Regions from separate parts of the Homo sapiens genome. Here region 2 is linked to region 1. The links come from fine-mapping of genetic effects on gene expression. Tissue or cell type: whole blood. Region 1 holds a variant in brackets; the other region holds the start of a gene. All regions are shown on one strand. Distances are between the middles of the regions.

The links. PIP is the estimated chance that this variant, and not a neighbour inherited with it, causes the effect.
Region 2: RAPGEF1 starts here. The variant in region 1 is fine-mapped to the expression of RAPGEF1 in whole blood (INTERVAL, PIP above 0.99).

What each region holds. Positions count from the first base shown.
Region 1 is chr9:131,633,438-131,638,582 of GRCh38, forward strand. All of the region lies in intron 5 of RAPGEF1 (Rap guanine nucleotide exchange factor 1), which reads right to left. Among named protein-coding and RNA genes, the nearest start is that of PRRT1B, 90 kb to the left of the region's middle. RefSeq lists an enhancer at 3,225-3,519. The variant T/C (reference allele first, on the strand shown) is at 2,944.
Region 2 is chr9:131,737,868-131,743,012 of GRCh38, forward strand. It overlaps RAPGEF1 (Rap guanine nucleotide exchange factor 1), which reads right to left and starts at 2,209. Exons shown (of 27, transcript NM_001377935.1): 1 at 1,903-2,209. The coding sequence starts at 1,963. RefSeq lists silencers at 1,593-1,922, 1,973-2,022, 2,173-2,432.

The DNA of each region.
Region 1 (5,145 bases):
TTACAAGCAGGGCAAAAGGAACAGAGAGAAGTCTGTGTTGTTTGCATCTGTTGATACAGGAAAACATTCCTGGTTCTTCATTGATTCATGAGCAATTATAATTAGATCGTCATCTTTCTGGAGAGGCAGCTGTGAACTCAACTAATGAACAATGGCAAAACAATCCTGGAATGACAGGCACACATGTGCAGACATGTGCCCAAATTCAAAGATGACGTCATGATCCCAATGACGCTCCCTACACTAGCTCGCGTGGCCTAGGCTTGAAAAGACTATAAAAGGGGCGGGCTGCTTTTTAAATTTACCACCTATCTCCCTGCCTAGACAGAAGGTCTTTAGTCTTGACTTGCCTTAACTATCACAGAGGAGAAACCTTAAAATGTGCACATATCTGGCTACTGTGCTAACACCCTAATCTCATTGAAAGTTGACCATTTATAATTTGGCATGAGCCCAACACCTCCTACTGAAGGTAGAATTTTTTGAGAGGGATGTCAGACTTTTTAATTGTCCTGAGGCACGAGTTAGAAAAGACTGAAAAAGGCCAGACGTGGTTGCTCATGCCTGTAATCCTAGCACTTTGTGAGGCCGAGGCAAGTGAATCACTTGAGCCCAGGAGTTCAAAACCAGCCTGGGCAACATGGTAAAAATCTGCCTCTACAAAAATTAGTTGGACGTGGTGGCATGCACCTGTGGTCCCAGCTACTCCGGAGGCTGAGGCTGGAGGATTGCTTGAATCCAGAAGGCGGAGGTTGCAGTGAGCAAGATTGTGCCGTTGTTGCACTCCAGCCTGGGCGATAGAGTGAGACTGTCTCAGAACAAAAAGAAGAAGAGACTACTCTAGAGTCTATGTCTACAGCAGTGACTGGAAACTGCCGACTGGTCACTGAAAATCAGTTTTCAAAAGTCAAAAACGGTATTTGGAAAAGTAGCTCTCCAAATATGTAATACTTTATTTCCATGTTCATTTTATTCATACTGAAAATGATCATAGGTCGGGCGCGGTGGTTCACGCCTGTCATCCCAGCACTTTGGGAGGCCTAGGTGGGCGGATCACTGGAGGTCAGGAGTTCAAGACCAGCCTGGCCAACATGGTGAAACCTTGTCTCTACTAAAGATACAAAAATTAGCTGGGCATGGTTGTACGCGCCTGTAATCCCAGCTACTTGGGAGGCTGAGGCAGGAGAATCACTTGAACCCAGGAGGCGGAGGTTGCAGTGAGCCCAGATCATGCCATTGCACTCCAGCCTGGGCAACAAGAGTGAGACTCCGTCTCAAAAAAAAAAAAAAAAAAAAAAAAAAGAAAATGATCACAGAGAAGGAAGGGCTTAAATAACAGTTGACAAGTCAAAATACAGCTCTGGTGCTCAAGTAACACAGTAAATTACCTGGTGAAGTTGGGAAGAGGTGGGGTACCGATTTCAAAAGATCATGCTGGGATATCTCTTTGGCCTCGAGTGGCTCGGCCCCCCAGCATCCAGGTGCTAGGCTGGGTGTGGTTCTCAGAGAAAAACATTGAGGGTCTTTAAATTCCTCAGATTTCCTTCCTTCAAGAGTCATAATCAGCTCTGAGCTACAGGCTCCCGGTGGAAAAGCAGCCCCAGAGCCAGATGAGGGGACAGGGGTCTATCTTTTACCTGAGATGATAAGACTACCTGGAAAAGAGCCATAATCACTGTCAAAAATGGTCACTGTGAGCCGTTAGAAATGAACACTTCTCCAGGTAACACTGTTTCCCCACTGCCTCCTGGTCACCTAGTTCTTACCAGGTACTTTATATACTTTATCTTACTGAATTTCCTCAAATCTTCAGGGTAAATATTTTAAAACCTACTTGAAACTCAGGGAAGTAACTTGCCCAAGGTTATACAGCTTGAACAAGTGGCATTTATGTGGAGGTTTAAATGATAAATGCTACCATGCATTCAGGGACAAAACCAAAGTAATCCTGTTTTACAACCCATGTTCAATCATTTGAAAAAAAAAAAAAGAGGAAAGACTCCCTTGAACAACTGAATGGGTTACGTAAACAACGGTGAGTCAGTGTAAGAACGTCCAACGCCCCTCCTCCAAGTGGGCTGACAACATCCTCATGAGTGCATTTCCCTTCTGCACAGCTCCAGTCCCTCCCAGCTGGGGGAGGCTCTCTCACGCCACCAGGGCATGGGCTTTTAAGGTGTCCCAGGCCTGAAAGGGACGGTGAGAGAGGCTGGAAGCCAGCTAGCTTGGAGGTGGGAGTGCAGAGAATCCTGTCCTCCCATGGGAGGCAGCAGCTCAGGGTGTCATGGTGCACAGGAGCCGGGGAGGGGGCAGCAGGTTGGGGGTGGGAATCACAGCCTTGCCACTGACTACTGCTCCACCTGAGCCTGAGTCTCCACACCTGTGAAAGGGGCAAGGGGCAGCCATTTATGCCTATTATGGAGGGTTGTCATGAGTATTAAGTGAGGACAGTGTACAAAAAGCACCCCATAAATGTTAGCTGTTATTACTATTAGACAATAACAACAAATGCCAGCGTCACAGTGTCTCGATCACTCTCACTGTCTGTAATGACTCCAGCATGAAAAGCTCCCAGCCACAGGCAGCTCCTGTCCATCCTCCAGATGCTGGCCTGTCTCTTCCTTGGGGAAGCGTCTCTGACCACCCTGAGAAAGGAAGGTCATCATACCCTTTCATCACACCCTGTGCCATCTTCCTTGGCAGCGCTATACCACATGGGTGTGCCTTTGTGTTTACGGTCCTGCCCCCCTTAGACTGTAAGTGCCATAGGGCAGGGTCTGTGCCAGCTTTGCTCATATTTCCTATTATCTCTCATTGCCTGGCATATAGAAGGTTCTCACTAAATGCTTCTTGAATAAATGAAACAAAACTGAATTTGTAAAGCTTCTCACCTAGAGAATCTTTGTTCTGGCTAAAATATTTTTAAAGCAATTGTGGAAAAGT[T/C]ATTTGCTCTGACATTGACAAGTTCATAACCTATAGGTTTCTCTCTCCTTTTTTTTTCCCCAGTCACTTTGAAAAATCAAGGAAATTTTTCTTTCAGACATGCCTTTCTACTAATGAAGTGGTGCTGTAATGACTCCATAGAGGAAATGTACTTGGGACTGCCACAGAGCTTTATGAGTGGAAACTCATTCTCCTCTGTTTTGGCTGCTCTAACTTGTGAACATCTCATCAGAATCAATTCGATAGAAGGAAACCTTAACAATGTTACCTGAAGAATAACAATTTTCAATAATAGCATTTTCAGAAGCCTAGACAGGAACAGCAGGGGTGGGTGGGCCAGAGTGACTCAGGGCTGCTGATAAAGCCCCAGGCCACGTTCCACTCTGCTCTGCTGAACCCAGTGTGCTACTGTGAGGACCAGATATGATAATGTACGTGCCTGTCCTCCAAATCCTGGAAAGGGCCATCAGCTCTGATCACAACAGCCACCCTGGGCTACATCCTTGAGTCTCGCTGCCCTAAGCAGATACTAGTAACTTTTTGGAATGAAGGGAACATGGGGAGGCTGGGCGCAGTGGCTCACACCTGTAATCCCAACATTTTGGGAGGTCGAGGCGGGCAGATCACCTGAGGTCAGGAGTTCGAGACCAGCCTGGCCAACATGGTGAAACCCCATCTCTACTAAAAATATAAAATTAGCTGGGTGTGGTGGCTCACACCTGTAATCCCAGCATCTCGGGAGGCTGAGGCAGGAAAATCACTTGAACCCAGGAGGCAGAGGTTGCAGTGAGCCGAGATCGCACCACTGCACTCCAGCCTGGGTGACAGAGTGACATTCCGTCTCAGAGAAAAAAAAAAAAAAGGAGAACATGGGAGAATTCAGAGGAAAATATTGATGTCATCTAGGCAAGCCCCTTTTACATGAACTCTATGGCCCCAGCAGACACGTCAGCCTCCCCTTAAATGCTGCTGGGGTTGGAGGGCCACCCAGATGTCCTGGCAAACACATATTTCATTCTGGAGCAATTTGCAATGCTGAGCAATGCTTTCTCAGCCTCTCTCTATAATTTAAGTCCTTTGGGGGTCCTTATTCTACTCTCCAGAGCTGCTGGGGAATGTTAAGCCAAGGAGGCAGTTTTCAGGAATTTGTTAGCCTCGTTGAGTGGGAAGGAATTTTTTTTGACCTGGGGTAAACACCTCAGCTATAATTTTGGATTGAGGGGTCCAGAAAGGAGAGGGACACAGGTTTTTCAAGCCAAGAGATCTGTTTACAAAGCATGCATCTAGCACCACATAATTAATAATAAATAGCAGCTAAGGCCTGACTGCTCCGTATGTGCCAGGTGCTGTTCTAGAAGCATTATGTGTATTGACTAGTGTAATCTTCCCTATAACCCTGAGATGCACGATGCTATTATTATACCTATTTCATAAAAGAGTTACTTAAGGTGCAGAGCAGTTGAGTAAACTGTTCAAGTTCATAGACTACGAAGTGGTGAACTTGGGATTCAAATCTAGCCAGGTGCTAAGGCTGGCCCCTTTCTACTACATTATATGGCCTCACACAACAGCGGGGTTTCCACTGTCCTGCTGCCTGCAGCCCTGGCCCTGACCCAAAGGCCCTTACCTGGTTCATGTCCAACATTCTGTCTTGCTTCCCATCCGCTAGGACTTATTTTCTCTATTAGGATTTGTCCCCCTGACCCCAATTCCAGACCTTCTATGGCCTTTGCTTCCCATCTTAACTAGGATTCACAATTTCTTATGCTGTTTCTGACTTCTCTGGATAGCAAATACACAGACCACATCACGGATATCAAGTAAATACAGAAAGTTCCATTTCTTACTCATCTCACTCCTGCTTTTCTACCAAGAATCCTAGAAGCTCCCAGAACATGAAAAGGTAGTGCTGATATGACATGCTGGGAGCTTTGCTTAAAGTCATTGTGAAAACGATCTCCATTGCATTTTGTCTAGCTGGCAAGCATGCTCAGCCAGCACGATGCTACGAAGACTCACTAAGATTTAATGCAGTGCTCAGTAAGGGCTGACTGCTCTAGACAGCTTTTCCCTAAGAGCCATTCGCACCAGTCCTGAGAGAAGTAAGTAGTTATGGGATAGAGCGCACCAACACCAGAGACGCAGAAAGACATTCTAATGTTTGAAGGTCAGGAGCAAGCTCTTATGTGACAAGCACCAGCA
Region 2 (5,145 bases), 100 kb after region 1:
GGCAGGAGAATGGCGTGAACCCAGGAGGAGGCGGAGCTTGCAGTGAGCCGAGATCGCACCACTGCACTCCAGCCTGGGCAACAGAGCAAGACTCCGTCTCAAAAAAAAAAAAAAAAATTTTTTTTAAAGTAGCAATGAGGTCTCGCCATTTTGCCCAGGCTTGTTTCAAACTCCTGGGCTCAAGTGATCCTCCTGCCTTGGCCTTCCAAAATGCAGGGATTACAGGCGTGAGCCACTGTACCTGGCTGACAGATGATTTCCAATCCGGTTCATTTTACTTTTCTGTGATTTCCAAGTTTTGACAATGAACATAGAATATTCTTATATTATAAAGATATAAAACATAATATAATCTTATATTAGATATAAAAAGATATAATATAATCTTATATATTATAAAGTTCTTATAAAAGAACTCAGTGAATGTTCTTTTTAAAATAAATTATCCAAGTTTCCCAACAGTACCGTTCTGACAAGACACTATACAAGAAGTTCCTGAGAAATGCTGCACAGATGAACCCAAGTTATTTCTGGAGCAGCAGGTGTACAGGATGGCGACTCATGGTCACTCGGCAAGGCTGTGGGGGCTCAAATTCAGTGAGAAAAATACTCAAGAAATGGCACCTGAACCCAAGCGCCCTGCCCCTGAGAAAAGCACCCTGGCTTCTGGTCAGAGGGCCAGGAATGAATATACTAGGGGCCTGCCGCCCTCTTGCTGTCTGGACAGCCGGAACTCACTGAACCTCTCTGAGCCTGTAAAACTGGGACCATATTCTTTCCCACAGACTAGCTTCAAAAATTTAAGAAGCAATGCATTTTAGGTGCTAAGAGTTAGATATATAGTAAACCCTCAATAAAGCCTACAAAAATGTCCTTCTGTGCTTCAACCACAGCCTGCAAAAGTCATATTGCCTTGTGGGTCCGCTGCAGGGGTGCACCCCACAGAAGTATCCCAGATTCAACCCAGGAAACATAAGCAACTTCCACAATCAAAGCCACAGACCTCCTTTGCAGCTCCCTAAAAATCTGCTTTCCCTCATTCAGCCGCCAAGCTAACCTGCTACCGGGGTTATGACCACAGGGCATGCTCCCAGTACAGGAGCCCAGGAGCACCCGCCCACTTCACCTTAGACCCAAGAATTCGCATTTGCCCTGCAAGGTGCTGCAGGCTAATAAAGCCTGGGGCCCCACAGGCTCGACAGTCATTGAATCTTTGGAGACTCTATTTCCAGGACAGGCAAACCCAGGGACTCGGAAGGTAACTCCCCCAGATTTCTAGGAACACACAAAGAGACGAGGTCTGCATCAAGATTTACCATCTACTCCAACCCACCGGTCCCCCACCTGCCCTCCTTGCAGAGCTGAGCTTGATCGGGGTGGGGAGGGGAAACTTGACTACCTCCTCAAAATACCCCCACTCATCCAGCCTGCTTCCTTTGAAGCAACCGAAGTGGACGCTTCTCGTTAAACTCGAAGCTCGTTAGAAATGACACATTTTACAGCTCAGCTGGGTTCACCCTCCTAGCGCCGAGCCCAGGCCGGGCACCGATCGCTGCAGCCGCAGCAGCACGCGGCCCGGGCTGTTCTTCCCCTGCTTGGGGCTCGAGCCATTTTCGGAAGTTCCCGGGGACCGCGGAGCGGCTAGCGCGCCCGGCCCCGGGTTGCAGGGGCCCCGCCCGGCCCGGCCCCTGGCGCCCCCGCAGCGGCCGCTTCCCCCCGCGCCCGGCAGGCAATGGGCCTGGAGGAGAAGCTGCCAGGCGCCCCGGCGAGGCCTCGGTGGCTTCACCCCGCCCCGGCGCACGGAGGGCCGCACATCCCGGGCGACCCGCGCTCGGCCCGGGGAGCGGCGGAGCCCCAGGGCCGGGCCCGGCCGGAGGGAGCCGCCCCACGCCCGCGCCTCACCTGCTTTCTCGATCTTGCCGGACATTTCCGGGCTGCGCCGGAGGCCGAGGCCGCCGCTCATCGGGCCCGGGCCGGGCCGCCGCGGGGCGACAGGGGCGGCGCGCCCGCCGCTCGCCTCGGCCCTGGCTCGCCACGCCTCAGACCCGCGCCGGCATGGCGGGCTCCGCGCGGCCGCGGCCCTGCGCTCGGCGACCGCGCTCCAGCCCGCCCGGGCCCAGCCGCTCCCGCCGCGCCCGCCGCCGCCGCTCCGCCTCCCGCGCGCCCGCCGCCGCTCCCCCGGCCCGCGAGCCGGCCGCAGCGCAGCGACGCCGCCCGCCCGCCCGCCGGGCCTCGGCCGCGGCCACGGCCACAGCGCCACCTGCCGGGCGCCCGCCGCGCCGCCACAGCGCCCCCTGTGGGCCCGGAGCCGCCCGAGCCTCCCGCGCGACGCGCGAGACGCAGCGCCCCCTGCCGAGCCGGAGTCCCCACGCCGGGGCCTGGGGCCTGGGGTGTGGGGCCGACCCCGCCTGGGACTCCGCATTCCTCTGCTGTGGGACCAGAGTCACCAGCTCCAGACCTGGGACTGACAGCTCCAACCCAGGGTCCTCGGTTGCCCAAGAGCCTGGCCTGCCCCCTCACCAGAGACACAGAGAACCCTCCTGGGTCAGATTTTCCACCCCAGGACGTGGAACTGACGCCCACCCCACCCTAGCATCATCCCGGACCCAGCATCCCCTGTGGGCCAGAGGCTCCACACCAGGGCCTAGAACTCACTCTCACCAGGACTCAACAAGCTCTGCTGGCTGGGAGCCTGTCCTGACCTCCCCCAAACCAGAGATGCAGCACCCCCTTTTTTGTTTTGTTTTTTGTTTTTGAGACCGAGTCTCACTTTGTCGCCAGGCTGGAGAGCAGTGGCGCGATCTCGACTCACTGCAACCTCTGCCTGCCGGGTTCAAGCAATTCTCCTGCCTCAGCCTCCTGAGTAGCTGGGATTACAGGCACATGCCACCATGCCCAGCTAATTTTTGTATTTTTAGTAGAAACGGGGTTTCGCCATGTTGGCCAGGCTGGTCTCGATCTTCTGACCTCATGATCCACCCACCTTGGCCTCCCAAAGTGCTGGGATTACAGGTGTGAACCACTGCACCCTGCCCGCACCCCCTTCTTAATTGGAGACCCCACACCAGGGCCTGGGAGTGGCCTCATAGCACCTCCTGCCAGCCCAGAGGCTCCAGCCGGGGAATGAGTCCACTCTGGCATGAAAGCCCTCTGCTGGCCCAAGGTCTATGCCAAGGCGGAGGATTCATTCTCCACCCCAGCCCTGCATGTGGGACTCAGTCACCCTGCCAGCGAGAGCCACCTGTCCCGGGCTGGGGTTGGCCCTACTCAGGCCTAAATGTCCCCTGAGGCCTAGAGCCTCCATGCTGGCCTGGGCCCAACTCCCTCAGGGACACAGCACACCCTGCCTGCCCTGCTTATTTGACATCCAGAAGGGCACCCTGGGGCTCAGCTGTGGAACTTTTCTAGTGTGGAAATGAGTTCATTAAAAGTCGTGGCTGGGCACGGTGGCTCACGCCTGTAATCCCAGCACTTTGGGAGGCCGAGGCAGGTGGATCACGAGGTCAAGAGATTGAGACCATCCTGGCCAACATGGTGAAACCCCATCTCTACTAAAAATACAAAAATTAGGTGGGCATGGTGGCACACGCCTGTAGTCCCAGCTACTTGGGAGGCTGAGGCAGGAGAATCTCTTGAACCCAGGACATGGAGGTTGCAGTGAACCGAGATCATGCCACTGTACTCCAGCCTGGTGGCTCCAGAGCGAGACTCCGTCTCAAAAAAAAAAAAAAAGTCGTGGTTGGGCACAGTGGCTCACGGCTGCAATCACAGCACTTTGGGAGGCTGAGGTGGGTGGATGACTTGAGCCCAGGGGTTCGAGACCAGCCTGGGCAATGTGTGAAACTCCGTCTCTACTAAAAATACAAAAATTAGCCAGGCACGGCGGCACCTGCCTGTAGTCCCAGTTACTTGAGAGGCTGATGAGGGAGAATCACTTGAGCCCTGGAGGCAGAGGTTTCAGGGAGTCATGATTGCACCACTGCACTCCAGCCTGAGTGACAGAGGAAGACCCTGGCTAAAAAAAAAAAAAAAAAAAAGGAAAAAAAAAGTCATTTAAGAATCAAAGGATCTGCTAAGTCTAAGCACTATTTCGGGTTCTGTGGGCCCTACAAAAGTGGGCACAATTGGTGCTTCCCTCCAAAGAGTTCACAACTTAGCTGGGAAGTCAAAGTTAAATCCTATAATACAAGTAGTAAATAACAACAAATTAGTAACGCAAGTGATGTTCCAATGTGGGGCAATTCTGCTGCCTGCTTCCTGTTGTTAGTCTAAGATGGAATACAAAGAAGTAGCACGCACCACCTGGGCTAGTTTTCCCTCCTGTTTCCCCCAAAATAAGTAAATTAAATAACCTAGTGATGGGGACAGGATTTGGGGGAGGTGCAGGGAGGAGGAAAAACTGCTAATGTTGTGAGAGATTCTTATTCCCATCTCCCTGGACAGTCTAAAGGGTCACCGATTCCACAACTAAGAGCTAGTCAGGCCGGGTGTGGTGGCTCACACCTGTAATCCCAGCACTTTGGGAGGCCGAGGTGGGTAGATCACCTGAGTTCAGGAGTTCGAGACCAGCCTGGCCAACATGGTGAAACCCCATCTCTACTAAAAATACAAAAAATAGCCGGGCGTGGTGGTGCGCGCTGGTAGTCCCAGCTACTCAGGAGGCTGAGGCACGAGAATCACTTGAACCTGGGAGGCAGAGGTTGCAGGGAGCCAAGATCGCGCCACTGCACTCCAGCCTGGGTGACAGAGCGAGACTCCCTCTTTAAAAAAAAAAAAAAGGAGATGGTCATAGATGGCAGCCAAATTTCCCATCATCATTTCATCAGTTGCAGCCCTCTAGAGGTCAAAGGCAAATCCAAAGATTGACAAATTCATTTCCCTCTTCCACCTGATGAATGGATGCTCTGATCCAGGGTGGCCCTGTTCAGCCCTCTTGGCAGATGCCTTACCAGGCAAAACTGGCCCCTGGTCCCAGGCCCAACCCCAAAACACACTCAATGCTGCCCCCAACCCTTCTAGGCTTCTGAGCTGAGAAGAGCCGATATTTTAAATCCAAAATCCTGGTTGAAAAGTAGAAAACTAGACTGCATGGATACTAGGTGCAGTCAGGGGTTTGTGAGAACACAAATATATTTAATAAATTAT